3 linked regions of the Homo sapiens genome follow. The protein of the gene in region 2 interacts with the protein of the main gene of each other region in a pairwise test. Each region holds a gene or a part of one and is shown on either strand. Other genes may lie near its edges.

Region 1 (5,588 bases), on a different chromosome or scaffold from region 2:
GACATGGAATGCGAGGAGAAAAGAGTGTGCAGAGGAGAGGGTGAGCAGGAGATGGAGGAAGAGCAGGGAAATAGAAGCTGCACTTCGCAGATGTGGAGGCTGTGAGGAACGCAGAGTGAGGGAGGATGAGAGACCGTGGCAAGTTCTGTGTTTTAGGCCTGGACAAGCTCAGTGGTTTGTTGAAGCTGCATTATCCATACCTAGAACAGCAGGGGACACACAGTAGTCCTTGATAAAAATGTGCTAGATGAATGAATGACATCATGATAATGAAGGCCGTTTTAACTCAGGGTCTGAGACCAAGTCCTTCCAGGACAGCCCATCTGCGGTGGTGAGCTGGCAGAAAGGATCCTCTCTCCACCCTCACACCTCGATCCCCCGCACACTAACAATTCTCCTCTATAAGGATGCCCACCCTTCGTCTTATACTTAGAAATCTGCAGGAACCCCAGGAATGACATCTTCACATTCCAGCTGCTCTGTATTTAAGTTGGATTTAGAAAATGACCCCAAATTGTCAAATCAAAGATTGACATTTAATCGAAAGGCTGTGTCAGTTCCCGTTTGCCCTGCTTCTCTGTCAGGCTGCCCTGAGGGCACTGCAGGGGCCCCACGCCTCCTCTGTGCTTGGTCCTTGAGGACATTGCCTGGAATAAACAATGAAATGTACAGCATTTCTCCAAAGAAGGAATGCAAATGGCGCACAAGTATGAAAAAGCTTTCAACTTCTTGACCAGCCTGCCCAACACGGTGAAACCCGCCTCTACTAAAAATACAAAAATTAGCTGGGTGTGGGGGCATGTGCCTGTAATTCCAGCAACTCAGGAGGCCGAGGCAAGAGAATCGCTTGAACCCGGGCGGTTGGAGGTTGCAGTGAGCCGAGATCACGCCATTGCACTCCAGCCTGGGCGACAGAGCGAGACCTCGTCTCAAGAAAAAGAAAAAAAAAAAGCTTTCAACTTCTTGAGAAATGAAAACAATGCAAATGAGACATAACTACATGCCAACTTCACAATGATTCACATGAAGTGAAAGGAAATGGTCCCCCACCTACAGTCACAGGGGTAGAAACTGTGTAAACTTCCCAGCTGTGTAAACTTAGACACCGGAAAGCTCAAAAACAGATGAAAGTTTTGACCTAGCAGTTCCACTTCTAGGAATTTATCCTAAAATGTCACCATAGATATACGCAAATATCGACCCCCAAGGACACTTAGAAGAATGGCACTTATAATATTGATGCACAGGAAACGGACCAAATTACCCACAAAAAAGAACGGGTGAAATAACAAATGAGGTACACATATAATGGAATACCTATAGGAGGACAAGATGATATAGAAAACGGTTGGAGAGATTTTCTGTAAAGGACCAGACAGTAAATACAGCACTTAAACTTTATGGGCCATGCGGTCTGTCCTAACGACCCCACTCTGCTGTTATGGCGTGAAAGCAGCCACAGACAGTATGTGAACAAATGAGCATGTCTGTGTTCCAATAAAACTTTATTTACAAAAGAAGGGGGTGGGCCAGATTTGACCCATCAGCCATAGTTTGTCAACATCTAGAAAATATTTAATTATTTAATGCCATAGAAAGGTGAAGGTGATATTGTTAAAATTTTTTAAAAGCTTCAAAATAATACAAATAGTACATGTTACTTCCAAAGGAAATATAGATATATAGATAGAAAAAGGCAAGAAATTCAATAATAAATTGCTAATAGGATTATCTCTGAGTAATGATGCCGTCGTGGGTAATTTTTAAAAATCTTTTCAATGAACTGTATTTTCTAAATTGTTCTTCTAATGAACAATACATTACTCTATTTACAAGGAAAAGTTTTTGTTCCTCCCCACTACTTAGTCATAGCAAAATAATCAAAAAATAAGAGAAAGGAATATTATAGTGCTATTAATATTCATATTATTTATATTATAAAATATTAGGAACAACTATAGGTCAAACTATGATCAAATGGCTGTGTAAATTGCATATCTACTTGATGGAATACTGTGATTCCATAAGAAAAAATTTATAAAAACCTTTTATGGAAAAAACCCACCTGCCTATATCTGTACTGTGCATGAAACCACACATACGGGCAAAAGCAGGAAGAGACTTTGCAGACATAAAAACCAGGTAAGTTTTGGGAGTCAGGTGATTGCAAGATTTTTTTTTCTTTCATTGACACTTAGCTAATTTTGAGCCATATTTTTAAATGTGTGTCTTTTCAGTTACTTGAAACCTCTTCTCCCACCTCCCATCCTTTCCAAACCTCCTCCAAGCCAATTTTCCAGTTGGTTTAAAAGAAATCATTAGGGTGACCCCCACTCCCACTTTCTGGAACCTCAGGCAGAGCTCCTGTGGTTCCTCCCTAGCACCAATGTGTCAGGAATCTGCCTGCGTCCAAGCCCTGACTTCCAGAACCGGCAACCCCACAGCTCCCTTTGACCAGTCCTGACTATCTCTGGTCAAAAAGATCCTAGCCGTATAGGTTGCTAGAGAGTCCACTGTTTTATCAGGCATTTGTGACTTATTTACGAAACCAACTTTTTTCCTTCAGTTGTTAGGAGCCACTCCGTCATCTGCTGCTGGATTTTAATCTAGGCCTCTAATATCTTTGGCGACATCCAGTTTATCCTGAGTTTTCGGAGGGACTGGTGGCCACTGCTTCTCAGGACTTCCTGGAGGACTCAGAGATTTCCTGGCCAGGATCTGACCTCCTTCAGGATTGACAGGACAATTGTGGAGCCCCAGTCTCTGAAAACCTCCAACAAGAGAAGAAAACACCGGTCTCCAGGGAGAGAGCAAAGGGCTTAACGAAACGATCCCCTCTCCAATGCCCCTTCTCCCTGAGATTCTGCAGATCTAGGGAAGTGCAGGTGTCCAGCCTGTGGGTGTCAGAATGGCTGGGGAGATATTTCCCCCACAGGGACAGTCAGTCACATTGGTCACCTACATGAGGGTATGGGCAGAAATCACAGAGTCCTCACCTGGGTCCACTTACCTGGTGCAACAGGACTTATTTTCAAATCATCAAGGCCAAAAAGCGATCGGAATGAGAAGGGGGCTTCAACAGCAGGCGGATCATTTTCCCCCATGGTGACTATTTCAGGACCTCTGACATCCGGCTCCGCCTCCACCTCTACCTCCTTAGCCGAGGAAGAACAGAAAGCATTTGTTCCCCTATTTATACTTGTAGCATCAGGTGCATCTTGGTCATACGGTAAATCTTTGAAATTCGACAGTCCACACAAAGCGCATTCAGTATCGATTAACCAAAAACAGTCATCTGGTGAGAATGCATTTTCGTCTGAGCTACAGCAGATAACAGAAAAGCTTCTAGAATTAGCAAAAAAAAAAAAAAAAAAAAAGTATGAACTTAATTCTGCTAAGACAATGACTTTCCCATTGTTTGTCCAACCAATCTTCAAATCGATTGCTTTAGAGGGACTCCCTCTCACCATTTAGAAGTTGCCATATTGCTATTGTTCAGAAGATAAATTACTCTCAAAGCCCTTTCCATTGCTTTTTTGCGATTGTTTTCACCTGTCCCACATAAACGCAATTCTTTCCCTGTGCGTGTGGTACACCTACCATAAGCATAAGTAGTTTCGGTACTCACATAATTCCCGAGTCCCAAAAATGTAGATGGCACCACGGAAGAGATAGTAGGCCACAGTGTTACTGGCTTCCCATAAACACAGCCCTTTCCTGGCTCACACGGGCATGACCTAATTAAGAACGAAAGTACCCGAGCCGTCCGGTGCCCGGTCCTTCCCCCACATAGCAAAGTGGGGAGTGGCTTTGGACCAACGGCTTGCATCAAAATAACCCCGGGGCTGTGTTTCCTACGAAAGAATTCCACCTATCACAATGCCAAGGAGACCAGAGACCTTTCTAAGTCATTCCCTGTAACTCTGAGAGGGCGGAGGAAGCAGGGAAATAGCAGAAGATTCCCAATTAAATTCTAGTTCCCTCTCCCAGATATCAGGCATGGCTGCTCTGGGAACCTGCTTCCTCCAAGGGCTAAAATCCACAGGGGCTCCAGCAGGCACATCAGCACAGACACTCAGATCATCCGCTTTCATTCCCTTTGTGACTACCTGTTGTAACGTTTGAAATTCCAAAGGGATCTAGTAAGCCATTTGAAGCAACCCGTGTTTCCCAAGATCATAGTAAAATCTAAACAAGAGTTCTGTGCCAAAAATGTTCATTTCATTTCTATCGCAAGAAGAGCTTGAAAGAGTAACTTAGAAAAGCAAGAAGTTCATGTTGGGCCATTTTCTGGCTTTCATTCTTGCTGATACCTCTGTTTATTATCAGCATGTAGCAAATTACATCGTTTATCCATATAAAAAGAATAAGTGGGCAAATGGCTTCTGAAAGATGGAACCTGGGTGAGAACATCCCCTCCCAAACAGGCTGTGGTTGGCAAGCTGTACAACACTGAGAAGTGTTGAGAAGCATCTTCTCTCCTCACACCCATTTTACTCACCATTTCTGGAGCTGCCATCATTAAAAGCAGAAATAATTTCCTTTTTCATTATAAAAACAAGTGTGATGGTAAGCAGGCCGCCAACAGGTTAGTCCAATCGGGGAATATTTTCCCCAAGTCACTCAGCCTTGTCGACTCAATCATCGCAGCAAATGGCATTATCGCGGGCATCTGTGTAACCCAAGCTGCCGTGGGCCTATCAAATAGCCCTTGGTGGTATGGCTGCAGAGACCAGGGAGGGAAAAATGTGGCTTCCCTTTAATTAGTCAGTAAGGTGAGCAAACCTTTTCAGAAGCTTTGCATCAGGGAGTGATCGGAACACAGCCGCTCCTTTTACTTGAAAGAAGGGGTAGGCTCTGCCCAGTGCTGAGCATGTGACCGTCAAGAGGGCAGACATACTCTCTGGTGGGGGTTTCTGTCCCTCCCTGTAACTGAGCCCCCAAGTTCAATTCTGCAGCTACTCCTGCAGACAAAAGATGGGGAGCCTGAAGATGCTCATCACAGCCTGCGCTCCACAAAAGACACGTCATGTTTCCTTCCTCGGAGGCCTCTGCATCCCAAGAGGCTTCTGCACACAGCACTGCTTAAAGGGGTTTAACCGCTGCTGTGGGGACCAGAGCGCTGAGCATCTTTGAAGGGCTGAATTTACCATTGTGGATGGCAACTCGCAAATCCATGCATTTATTCAGCAAATATTTAGCAAGCATCTGCCATGGGCCAGACTCTAGACACAGTGCAGCCAGCAAGAAAAACAAAGTGCTCCCATGGGGCCCCAGATGTTAAGCGCTAGGAAGAGATTAGGCCGGGGAGGGTCTGAGAGAGATGAGGGCAGAGTGGTACAGGACGGCCTCTAGGGAGAGTGTTGTTTCAGCAGGGACCTTGATGATGTTTTAGTAGAGACCTTGGTGACCAGTGAAGTGAGTCTTGTGAAATTCCTCCAAGGAGGGCGACCACCAGCTCCAAAGCCTGGAATAGGGGCCACGCTGGAGTGTTTGAGGAACCCCAAGAGGGGCCGTGAGCCTAGAAAGCAGGGAACAGGGAATAGCCGATGGCAGATCCCAAGGCCCAGGGGCATGGGAAGGGCTCT
Region 2 (5,792 bases):
TCCATATGATCACACAAATCTCTCAATCTTTTTGCCCCTCTCAAATTCATCGCATTCCGAAACCACAATCCAGACAGGACTATTGCCACAACTTCCTAAAAGGTCTTCCCACTACCCAATATCTTCTCCCTCGAACTCAGGGTTTCTCAACCTCGCATTATTCCCATTTTGAACTGAATAATTCTGTGTTGTAGGAGGCTGTATGGTCCTGTGCACTGTGACACGTTAAACAGCATACCTGGTCTCTAACTACTAGATGCAGGTAGCTGCCCTTCTCCTAAAATGATGCCGAATGTCTCCTGGGAAGAAGGGGTGCCCATCTCCCCATCTTTCCTCATTCCCCATTGAGCAATCACTTAAAAACTTTTTGATAATTACCTGTGGCCTGCAGACAAATCTAAACCTCTTAACAATGGTATACTATTCACATGTTCTTCCTCCCAGGTAGCTTCAGAACCTCTTTTATTCACACCCTTACTCGTTCTATGTTCCTAAAATACCAGACTACCAGAAATTCTCTGAACAAGTCTTTGCTTTACATCTGCACTGACAGTGCAGTTCAACAGGGTTTGCTAAAGAATCACACGGATCAAAATGACAGTGTTTGCAAATCTACAGTTTATTACTGTAGGTTATGTTATAAATCTACAGTTTATAACATTATACGACTATATATGTCTATGTAAGCTCTCTGAGGTCAGAGTCAGTCTCTGGGAGGTAGTATAATAAAGTGGCTAAGAATTTAACTTGGGACTGAAAAGAGCCCCAAAAGGAAAAGAATATAAAACATTACAGCCAAAGGCTGCCTCACAGCAAGAGATCTGAAAAGGTCAGGTGTGGGCTCCTTCGGCTTCCCTTTGTTAGGTGTGTGGCCAGACATATACTCTCTCAGATCTGGAACCACCCAAGTGTGCAAAGAAAACACCCTGGAACCAAGCAACCCAAAATAGAGTCCTGATTGCATTTTTAAATATTTTGCTGGTCACATAGGCATATTCCTGCTACGCAGCTAGTCTCAACAACAGAGCTCTGGGTTGGGGGTGTGGTCTCATGAAGACCAGGAGCAAATCATCAATCTCATTGTTACCAATAAATAATGTTGACAAACTGGTACAAACTGCCCCCAAAGCCCTTGGACTCACAGTCACAAAGCTATTATAATAGCTTCATATTAAAGCTAATAATAATAGTTTTGTGACTATTAATAAATATAACTATAGTCACAAAACTATTATTATTCAGTGTATTTTCAATGCCATGCACAAATGTTAGCAATATAGCTCAGGCTAATTTCAGGCCTGCTGGAACTGTCATGAACATATCTGCCTGGGGCCCCTTCTTCTCTCCTCTGCCGCCTTGTAGAGCAACGGCTACTTATCTTGCAGACTCACCTCTAACATCAGCTCCTCAGCTAAATGTCCCCTGATGATCCTTCTGTCTCCTGCCAGCACTATACCTAGTGTGTACCTTTATTGTCACATTTAACATTTTATGACTATATATGTCTGTGTAAGCTCTCTGAGATCAAAGTCAGTCTCTGGGAGGTAGTATAATAAAGTGGTTAAGAATTTAACTTGGGACTGCGTTACTGATTTAGCTACTTCTACGTTTTATGCCCTTGGTTCTTAGCCTATCTAAACCTCAGTTTCATCAGTAAAAAAGGAGTAAGAGCTATAACAATTTCATATCGGGCTTTCCTGAGAACATACCTGAAATGCTTAACATACTGTCTACACATAACAGATGCTAATTTGTTAGCCATTGTAGTAGTATCCTTAGCACTAATCACTGAGTCTGCATACACAAAAATCCAGGAAATGTTTATTAAATTCAAACAAAGAAAATGTCGGCTTATACTTTTTATCACAATTCCTGCTATCTTCTTTTCTGTCCCCTGGTGCTAATCCATGAAGGTAAGTAAGCCTAAGGGTCATCCTTGGCCTCCCCTCCCTGACCCACTATAGCCAAATCATTACCAAGTCCTGTTGATTCTACCTACTACCTTCTCTCCAATCCTTTCACTTTTCATTTACCCCACTGCTATCACTCTACTCTAAGCCACTATCATTTCTTGTCTAGACCACCATAATAACCTCCTAATCAGCCTTCCACATCCGCTCTGCAACATCTTACCATCACTTCTCTACCTGCACAAGTTATTATTAATGCAGCTACCAAGAATATTCTCGTCATATCACTGAACTGCTTATAACCCTCTGATGGCTTCCTACACTTTCAGGAAAAACAAATCCTTAACATGGTCAGCAAGACACTATCTGGCCTGCCCCTGCTGACCCCCTTGCTCTGGCTCCTTATTCCCAACCATATTGGACCTCTCTCTATGGCCCTGAAATTCTCAGTGTTCACTACTACCACAGGCTATTCCCCCTCCTCCCTTACCAAGGTGTTTATAGCTCATCCTTTAAAGTTCAGCTTAAAATAATTTTCCAAAGGAAGTCTTCCTTCATGGATCCTACTTACTGCTCTTAAGGCACAGTTCTGATGAATGAGCAGATACCAGTTAAGAAAAGCAGGGTGAGAGGGGAATCATGAATGATGGCAGTGACCCTATCTGTTTCGACCACTTCTGTACCACTGGCACCTAGTATTCAATAGCTACTCAAATGTTAAATGCGCCTACCAACCAAAATTGAAGCTCAGTAAAGACTGTTCTAACCAACCGAATAAACCACATTCTGTTAAAGTTTCTTTTTTATATAATCCCAAATATCAGAAGGGGCCTCTCATTTATCACAGCAATTCTTTCTACAACTCCCTTGGCAAATGGCCGTTCAACCTGTAATGGAGCTCTTCCAATGACAAGGACCGTATTAACCAACAGTCCTAATATTGGTAAAACTGAAAAGCAATGAAGTTAGACATTGGCAGCACTCCAAATCCAATTAAATTGGAGGTGTGGATTAGAGAGTAGAGGGTTGACACTGGGTACTACAGAGTATAAATGATTTTCTTTAAGGGAATCTTTTAAGGAAGAAAGTTCAATAGGCCTTAAAAATGAGATGGAAAGAAATGCTAAAGGGAGCATTTCTGGAATTCATATATTTTAACACCCGGTCTTAACATCTCTCACCCAAGGTTTATTAGAGGAAAGTCAAATGCTGGGCATCAGCTACCTAGAAGCGATTTTTGAATTAGCCTAAGAACGGGGAAACACGGACAGGAAAGTGCCATCCCTCAAGTTACACCCCCAATCCTGGAGCCGCGAGTTGGGGCCCAGGGACTGCTAGGCCCCTGATACCTGGAACTCCAGGGTGCACTTGGTGCCCTGAGCGATGTCCTCGTAGAAGCACTGCTTGGCGTTGTCAGGAAGCTCGAAGGTGATCTCAGAGGCGCCGCCGGGTCCAGGCACCAGTAGCAGCAGTGCGAGCAGCCTGCACCCCCAACGGCCCGCGACGGCCGCCCAGCGCTGCGCGGACCCCGGCCGCGGCATCCCGAGAAGGCGGCGGCGGCCTCAACCGAGCTGCGAGACGCAGGGTCAGGTCTGCGCGGACTCACCGCGCGCGGCAGGCCTCAGCGCAGGCCACCCCGCAAAGATACACAGCAGAGCAGGTTCACGCCTGTGGGAGATTCGGGATCAGAGCGACCCTCCGGCTTCCTGTGAGGGGCGCAGACGGGCGGACCTGGGGAGGTAAAAGAGAAGCGGAAAAGGCCTGAGAGGGTCGGAAGTGGGGATTAGCCTTTCGGGGGGTGAAGGGGCGGAGCCTGAGACACCGGCTCCCGTGACCCGGATGCGTTCTTCTCCGGGAACACGCGTTGGAGTGCGTACGTGGAAGCCCGCGAGGCGTTGGCTCTGCCTCCGTTGCAGCCTGGGACGAGGGGCGGGGCCAGAGTCGTGGGCGGAGAGGGGCGAGACCAGGAAACGGGGCGTGGCGGCCGCCGTGGTTACAGGCGGTTGGCGAGGGTAATTACGCTCCAATCACTGGCTTTTTTTGTTGTTTTTTTTTTTTTTTTTTTGAGACAAGAGTCTCGCCCTGTCACCCAGGCTGGAGTGCAGTGGCGCGATCTGCGCTCACTGCAACCTCCGCTGGGAACTTAGCGCTGGGGAGCATCTAGGGAGTGGTAAAGGGCTCATTTTGCCCTAGGGTGCTAATCGTTGGTGGTAGAGCGCTTTGCAATTTGCGGAGTTTTCTCATAAGTAATAATAAATATTTGGGGGAAGCAGCTGGGCAAGGAGCGCGAATTCTAAGAGCAGACTGCAGGAGTGCTTAATCCCTGCTTTGCCACGTACTGGCTGTGTGACGTCCGGCCACTTGCTTAAATTCTCTGCCTCAGTGTGTATCTGTAGAATGGAGATAATAGCACCTACCATAGAGAATTATTACAAAGTACCAATATTTGGAAAAAGTACCTAGAAGTGGTTGGTACATAGCAAGCACTAGATGAACTTTTGTTAAATTAAACGTCACAGTGCAATCAATACATTACATACCACAAGATAGGCAAAAATTTTAAGTGTAACAATAACAGATATTGGTCGACTTATAGAGCCACAAAACCTCTTATACACTGCTAGTGAAAAAGTAAATTGGTTAATCAAGTTGGAAAACAATGTGCCATTATCTAATAAAGTAGAATATATGTATACACACACAGAACACACACACCTATATACAGTGTGTGTGTGTGTGTGTGTATATATGTATATATATATATATATATATAGCCTGGAATATGTAGCCACAGCCTGGAAATTCCATTTTACATATATTTATGGAGTATATGCTTTAGAGCAGTGGTTCTCAAGTGTTGCTCTGAAGTCCCCAGAAGCCTCCTGAAACCCTTTCAGAGGGTATGTAATGATCTGTATGAAGCTGGATTTTCATTATATATTTCAACCAAAACAGCATAACAGATTGAATATCAAAGGAAATGAGCACCCAGCTTCTTCCTTAAATCTAGATATGAAAGATTTACAAAAATAAGGTCACTCTTCTTGCTAAATTTTTATTTCGAAAATATTTTTATTAAAAGATGTGTTATTTATGTAAATGTGTGCAGTGAGTTGAATTGTGTCCCCCTAAAAAATACATGTCCAAGTTTCAACCCCTCCACCCCTGTGAATATGATTTTATTTGGAAATAGGGCTTTTGCAGATGTAATTAAGTTAAGGCCCTCAAGATGAGGTCATCCTGGGACTTAGGGTGGGCCCTAAATCTAAAGACTGTTATCCTTATGGTATGGTTTGGCTGTGTCTCCACCCAAATATCATCTTGAATTGTAGTTCCCATAATCCCCACATGTCACGGAAGGGACCCGGTGGGAGGTAATTGAATCATGGAGGCAGATTTTTCCCATGCTGTTCTGGTGATAGTGAATAAGTCTCATGAGATCTGATGGTTTTATTGTAGTTCCCATAATCCCCATGTGTCATGGGAGGGACCTGGTGGGAGGTAACTGAATCATGGGGGCGGGTTCTTCCCATTCATTTATGTTTCCCATAAAGCAGTATTGTGTTTATAATGCATTATTTGTGTTTATAAACATATAATGCACGTATAATGCATTATTCATGTTTATAAACATTGTTCATGTTTTATAACAGGTAGTTAGCTACATGAGATCTCATGGTTTTATAAAGGGCAGTTCCCCTGAACACGCTCTCTTGCCTGCTGCCATGTAAGACGTGCTTTTGCTGTGCCTTCACCCTCCACCATGATTGTGAGGCCTCCCCAGCCATGTGGAACTATCAATTCATTTAACTTATTCTTTGTAAATTACCCTGTCTTGGGTATTTCTTCATAGCAGTATGAACATGGACTAACACACCTTAT
Region 3 (4,979 bases), on a different chromosome or scaffold from region 2:
TCAGGCTGATCTCAAACTCCTGACCTCAGGTGATCCATCCGCCTTAGCCTCCCAAAGTGCTGGGATTACAGGCATGAGCCACTGTGCCCGGCCAAAGCAAGGCTGGGCATGGCAGCTCATGCCTGTAATCCCAACAGTTTGGGAGGCTGAGGTGGAAGGACTGTTCAAGGCCAGGAGTTTGAGACTCTGTCTCTTAAAATATATATATATATATTTTAAAATCCATTTTGACTTACAGTATTTTCAATTTATGATGGGTTTACTGGGACAAAGTTCTATCATATAAGTTGAGGAGCATCTGTATAAAAATCCGTATTTCACTACAACTTAACACAGTGGGAGAAAGAGGGATCAGGTTCACCCTGCCAGAGAGGAATGATCGTTAATAACACACCTTCTTTTTTTTCTTTTTCTGGGTTTTTCGACTTGCAGAACTCTGGAGGAGGGCCTGGAAAACAGGAAGAAGGGAAAAAAATTTTGAGAAATGTGGAGGAAATTAAAAATAAAGGGTTACTTTCAGTACTGCAGCTCTTTTCAGGACTTTGCTGGCATTTAGCCCTCACTCCCAAGCAGGATACCATGTACATACTCACCACCTTCTATTCCATACTAACCTTTAGCTCTGCATCCTGGACCTCCATCTCAGACTTGTAGAGGTCAGGCTCGAAGGGACCACTGGTTATCCGCATGGGGCCATTGGGCATGAGCAGAACTGTAAATTTAAACTGGGCAACAAATTCACCTATGGCAAAAATGAAGATGTGTTTTGATAAAAAGTTCCTTTGTCATACTTAGCTCTTCTGAACTTACAGGAAGGATATCTTATAATCAGGGAATCCAAAGTGAAGCTCTTTTTGGAACTCACCCTCCTTCTCATAGAGAACATTAAATGGTTGCAGCAGTTCATGTTTGGCGCACTCCACCACACCCATCCGAGCCTTCTTCTCATCTTCAAATGCTCTGGCAGGGAAGATGATATTCAGAGGTATCTTTAACTCCCCATCAAGTCTTACCATTTTGCTCATATTTTAAAATAGCTCCTACCCTCAGGCAGAAATCATGCTTAGGATTGCTCTTTTACATTACCTTCAATGAGAAGGAGATGGGGAGAGAGAGGGAGGGAGTGAGCACATGCACGCTACAAGTCTAGGCAGGAAGGGAGAGGAAAAAGTGTTCCTGGGTGTATGGTCTGTGAGTCAGACTGGTTCCAAGTACTATCATTGCTTAGTACCTTAAAGTAAACGGCATGGCATCAAAACGCCTTTCCACCTCACTGAAGAAGGCACGTGAAGTTTTCATTTTCAGTCCATACTGTTTAGAGGGGTCTCGTTTGTAAATAGTGGTTCTCTGTCCTGCATCCTTGGCCTGAAAGAGTAATTTAAGTAACATTTGGTCTGGTGAACACTCTCAGTCACCCCTCTTTGCCAACTCTGGTACTCTCCTCACCTTGCCCTCTCCTGAGCTGACGAGAACATCCACAGCATATACTTCATGTACCTCAAATTCAGCTTTTTCATGGTCCTTCCTAAAAGGAATAGAGAGAAAGGAATTTTTTTTTTTTTTTGACACAGAGTCTCATTCTGTCACCCAGGCTGGAGTGCAGTGGCACAATCTCAGCTCACTGCAACCTCCACCTCCCGGGTCCAAGCAACTCTCCTGCCTCAGCCTCCCAAGTAGCTGGGACTATAGGCACAAACCACCAGGCCTGGCTCATTTTTGTAGTTTTTAGTAGAGACAGGGTTTCGCCATGTTGGTTAGGCTGGTTCTGAACTCGTGACCTCAGGTGATCCACCCGCCTCAGCCTCCCAAAGTGCTGGGATTACAGGCGTGAGCCACCGCGCCCGGCCTAGAGAAAGGGAATATTAAGAGCAACAGGTCACTCCTGAAAACATGGAGTAGAGGGCGGACAAGATTCAGTTGGGAGTATAGAAAAAAACCTGATGACTAGTCTTGTGTGGTAGAAGGTAATAAGTAGGGTTGGCACCTACTTCTGCTGGTCTGTGGGATTCTGGATAATGGTTTTTTCTCCATCGATGACATGCTGCTTCAACTGGTGTGACAGCATACCTGTAGATAGTACACAACCTATGGAACAAGCTATCCAGTATCCCAAAAGGTTTCCAAATCCACCCACTTCAGTAGTTTGAAGTGGTAGGCAGTGAGACAACTACCTGGTTATGGAAACACAGGGCTCTGAGATTTCTGGCTTAGACTGGGTTATAGCCAGGATAGATCTTCAAGGGAGCAAAAGCCTCAATTCTGCAAAGCCACTCATTCTTTTTTTTTTTTTTTTTGAGATGGAGGAGATGGAGTTTCGCTCTTATTGCCCAGACTGGAGTGCAGTGGCGCAATCTTGGCTCACTGCAACCTCCTCCTCCCGGGTTCAAGCGATTATCTCGCCTTAGCCTCCCAAGTAGCTGGGATTACAGGCACCCACCACCACGCCCAGCTAATTTTTATATTTTTAGTAGAGACGGGGTTTCACCATGTTGGCCAGGCTAGTCTCAAACTCCTGACCTCAGGTGATCCGCCCACCTCAGCCTCCCAAAGTTCTGGGATTACAGGCGTGAGCCACCGCACCTGGCAAAGCCACTCATTCTTAGACCCTCAACCCTGTTATCTGTTCTCACCTTCTATTGGCGTGCAGTTAAATGAGTGGGCAACTTTGTTCCAGGCTTCTGTCACTTGTGTGTTCTAGAAGTACAACATCAAATGAAAGGTGAGATATCAGGAGCTAATAAGTTCTCTACAATGAGAATAAGAAGCATAAAAGAACTGAGCGTTTTTTTTTTTTTTTTTGAGATGGAGTCTGGCTTTGTCACCAGGCTGGAGTGCAGTGGCGTGATCTTGGCTCACTGCAATCTCTGCCTCCCGGGTTCAAGCTATTCTCCTGCCTCAGCCTCCTGAGTAGCTGGGATTACAGGCACGCAACACCACGCCCAGCTAATTTTTGTATTTTTAGAAGAGACGGGGTTTCACCATGTTGGCCAGGATGGTCTCGATCTCCTGACCTCGTGATCTGCCCACCTCAGCCTCCCAAAGTGCTGGGATTACAGGCATGAGCCATTGCACCTGGCAGAACTGAGCGTTCTAATATCCTCCATCAAGCCCCAATGATTGTCATTCACTGGTTTTTCATTTCATAGCTTGATTATCCCTACAATCTAAAAATACTTTATACAGATGCTCCCCAACTTGCAATGGGGTTACATCTCCAAAAAACTCATAAGTTGAAAATATCACTAAGTCAAAAATGCATTTAATACCCCTAACCTACCTAACATCACAGCCTAGCCTATGTTAAATGTGCTCAGAGCACTTAAAAAACATTATCCTACAGTTGGGCAGAATTATCTAACACATGCCTATTTTATATTAGTGTTGAATATCTCATGTAATTTACTAAATACTATATGGAAAATGAAAAACAGAATGGTTGTATGGGTACTCAAAGTATAGCTTCTACTGAATGTAGCATCAAGCTGAGGACCAGCTGTAACTGCATATCATTTTACCCAGTGCTTTCACAAAGATGGTCTAACTCAATAAATTTTGCATGTGAACAGGGCAGATGTATATCCCAATCTAGAAGACAAGGAAACTGAGTCTCAGGTTAAATGATTTGCCCCAGGTTAAATGAGTGTTAAGTGAAAGAACTTGGTCATAAACCTGGGTTTTCTTTTTTCTTTTTGTAGACGGGTCTCGCTATGTTTCCCAAGCTGGTCTCAAATGCCTGGGTTCAAGCAATCCTCCCACCTTGGCCTCCCAAAGTGCTGGGATTACAGGCATGTGCCACCACATGCCTATAATATTAAGTCCAGTGTTTATCCTTTTTTACCTGGCATTCTAATCTGTTTTGTGGGGACAGCAAATGCTTATTTTTCCTTTTTCTTTTGTGAGACAGGGTTTCATTGTTGCCCAGGCTGGAGTGCAGTGGCATGATCATAGCTCAGCACAGCCTCAATCTCCCAGGCTCAGGTGATTCTCCCACCTCAGCCTCCCTGGAAGCTGGGAATACAGGCACATGTTACCACGCCCAGCTAATTTTTGTATTTTTTGTAGAAATGGGGTTTCACCATGTTTCCCAGGCTGGTCTTGAACTCCCAGCCTCAAGCTATCCTCCTACCTTGGCCCCCCAAAGTGATGGGATTACAGATGTGAGTCACTGTGCCCAGCTAAATATAGCTAATTTTAAAAAGCTGTTTTATAAGGGGTCTGTAGGGGAGGTTGGTAGTTTCATATAGAGTAGCTATAGGTGCCTAATGCATCTTTGGTTCAAACGAGCTTTGGAATTGGATAAAATAGCTTACCTGATTTCCAGGTTTGACCAGGCGTAGGGCAGCTTCAGCACAAAGGTGAGCTGCCTTAATAACATCTGCTTTCCTCCCTGTTACTTGGGTCCCCTGTAGATAAGGACATGCAATCAGTATCTTCCTGGAAAGTCTGTTAACTCAGCTGGCTATCTGGTTAATATCTGTGAGCCCATATGCGAAGACCAGCCAATGAACAGGAGGGTAAAAACAACAACAACAACAAAAACCTTTCTCCTTTTGCTTCTCTAGAGACTCTCTCAACTTACGTGGTGATTGGGGGTGGGGATAAGAAGCAAATGGCAGTGCATTCCCTCTACCCCAAGGCTAAACAGAGATCAAAAGCAGGCCACCTACCTGAGCTACATCAACCACAAAAGTGTGAGCTACATTAGCGATGAAGCCATCCACATGGACCCCAAGGTCACTGAAAGGCAAGATCAGAGTACTGCATTAGGAACTGGCATTTTGTAAATGCTTTAAAAAAAGAAAAATGCTTTAAAACGGTTTAACCTTACATTTTTACCAAGTCACCTTCCTTGAGAATATAATCCTGGTCGCTCTTCAAAGGGGAGAAGTGACATACACAGTTATTTACCGAAATGCTGGTGGGAAAAGCAATACCTGTAAAGAAAGAATCATCAGCCTACTGCCTTGCTGTCTCCCGGG

Evidence for each region. Proteins that work in one complex are often made in the same cells at the same time.
Region 1: the proteins of TMED7 (region 2) and TMPRSS3 interact in a two-hybrid assay, tested with the Homo sapiens proteins (one large-scale study listed by BioGRID and IntAct).
Region 3: the proteins of TMED7 (region 2) and PA2G4 interact in binary tests that used the Homo sapiens proteins (3 or more experiments, as listed by UniProt).

The regions. Positions count from the first base shown.
Region 1 is NC_000021.9:42,392,314-42,397,901, forward strand, and holds the start of TMPRSS3 (transmembrane protease serine 3), read right to left. Parts: upstream 3,740-5,588; 5' UTR 3,629-3,739; intron 3,156-3,628; 5' UTR 3,105-3,155; coding exon 3,011-3,104; intron 1-3,010. UniProt on the Homo sapiens protein: Probable serine protease that plays a role in hearing. Acts as a permissive factor for cochlear hair cell survival and activation at the onset of hearing and is required for saccular hair cell survival. Activates ENaC (in vitro).
Region 2 is NC_000005.10:115,622,342-115,628,133, forward strand, and holds the start of TMED7 (transmembrane emp24 domain-containing protein 7 precursor), read right to left. Parts: upstream 3,696-5,792; 5' UTR 3,452-3,695; coding exon 3,260-3,451; intron 1-3,259. Other genes in the region: TMED7-TICAM2 (TRAM adaptor with GOLD domain isoform 1 precursor), read right to left, coding at 3,260-3,451. UniProt on the Homo sapiens protein: Potential role in vesicular protein trafficking, mainly in the early secretory pathway. Appears to play a role in the biosynthesis of secreted cargo including processing and post-translational modifications.
Region 3 is NC_000012.12:56,106,945-56,111,923, reverse strand, and holds part of PA2G4 (proliferation-associated protein 2G4), read right to left. Parts: intron 4,935-4,979; coding exon 4,829-4,934; intron 4,738-4,828; coding exon 4,668-4,737; intron 4,404-4,667; coding exon 4,311-4,403; intron 2,695-4,310; coding exon 2,631-2,694; intron 2,068-2,630; coding exon 1,989-2,067; intron 1,526-1,988; coding exon 1,447-1,525; intron 1,366-1,446; coding exon 1,232-1,365; intron 961-1,231; coding exon 866-960; intron 743-865; coding exon 615-742; intron 449-614; coding exon 395-448; intron 1-394. UniProt on the Homo sapiens protein: May play a role in a ERBB3-regulated signal transduction pathway. Seems be involved in growth regulation. Acts a corepressor of the androgen receptor (AR) and is regulated by the ERBB3 ligand neuregulin-1/heregulin (HRG).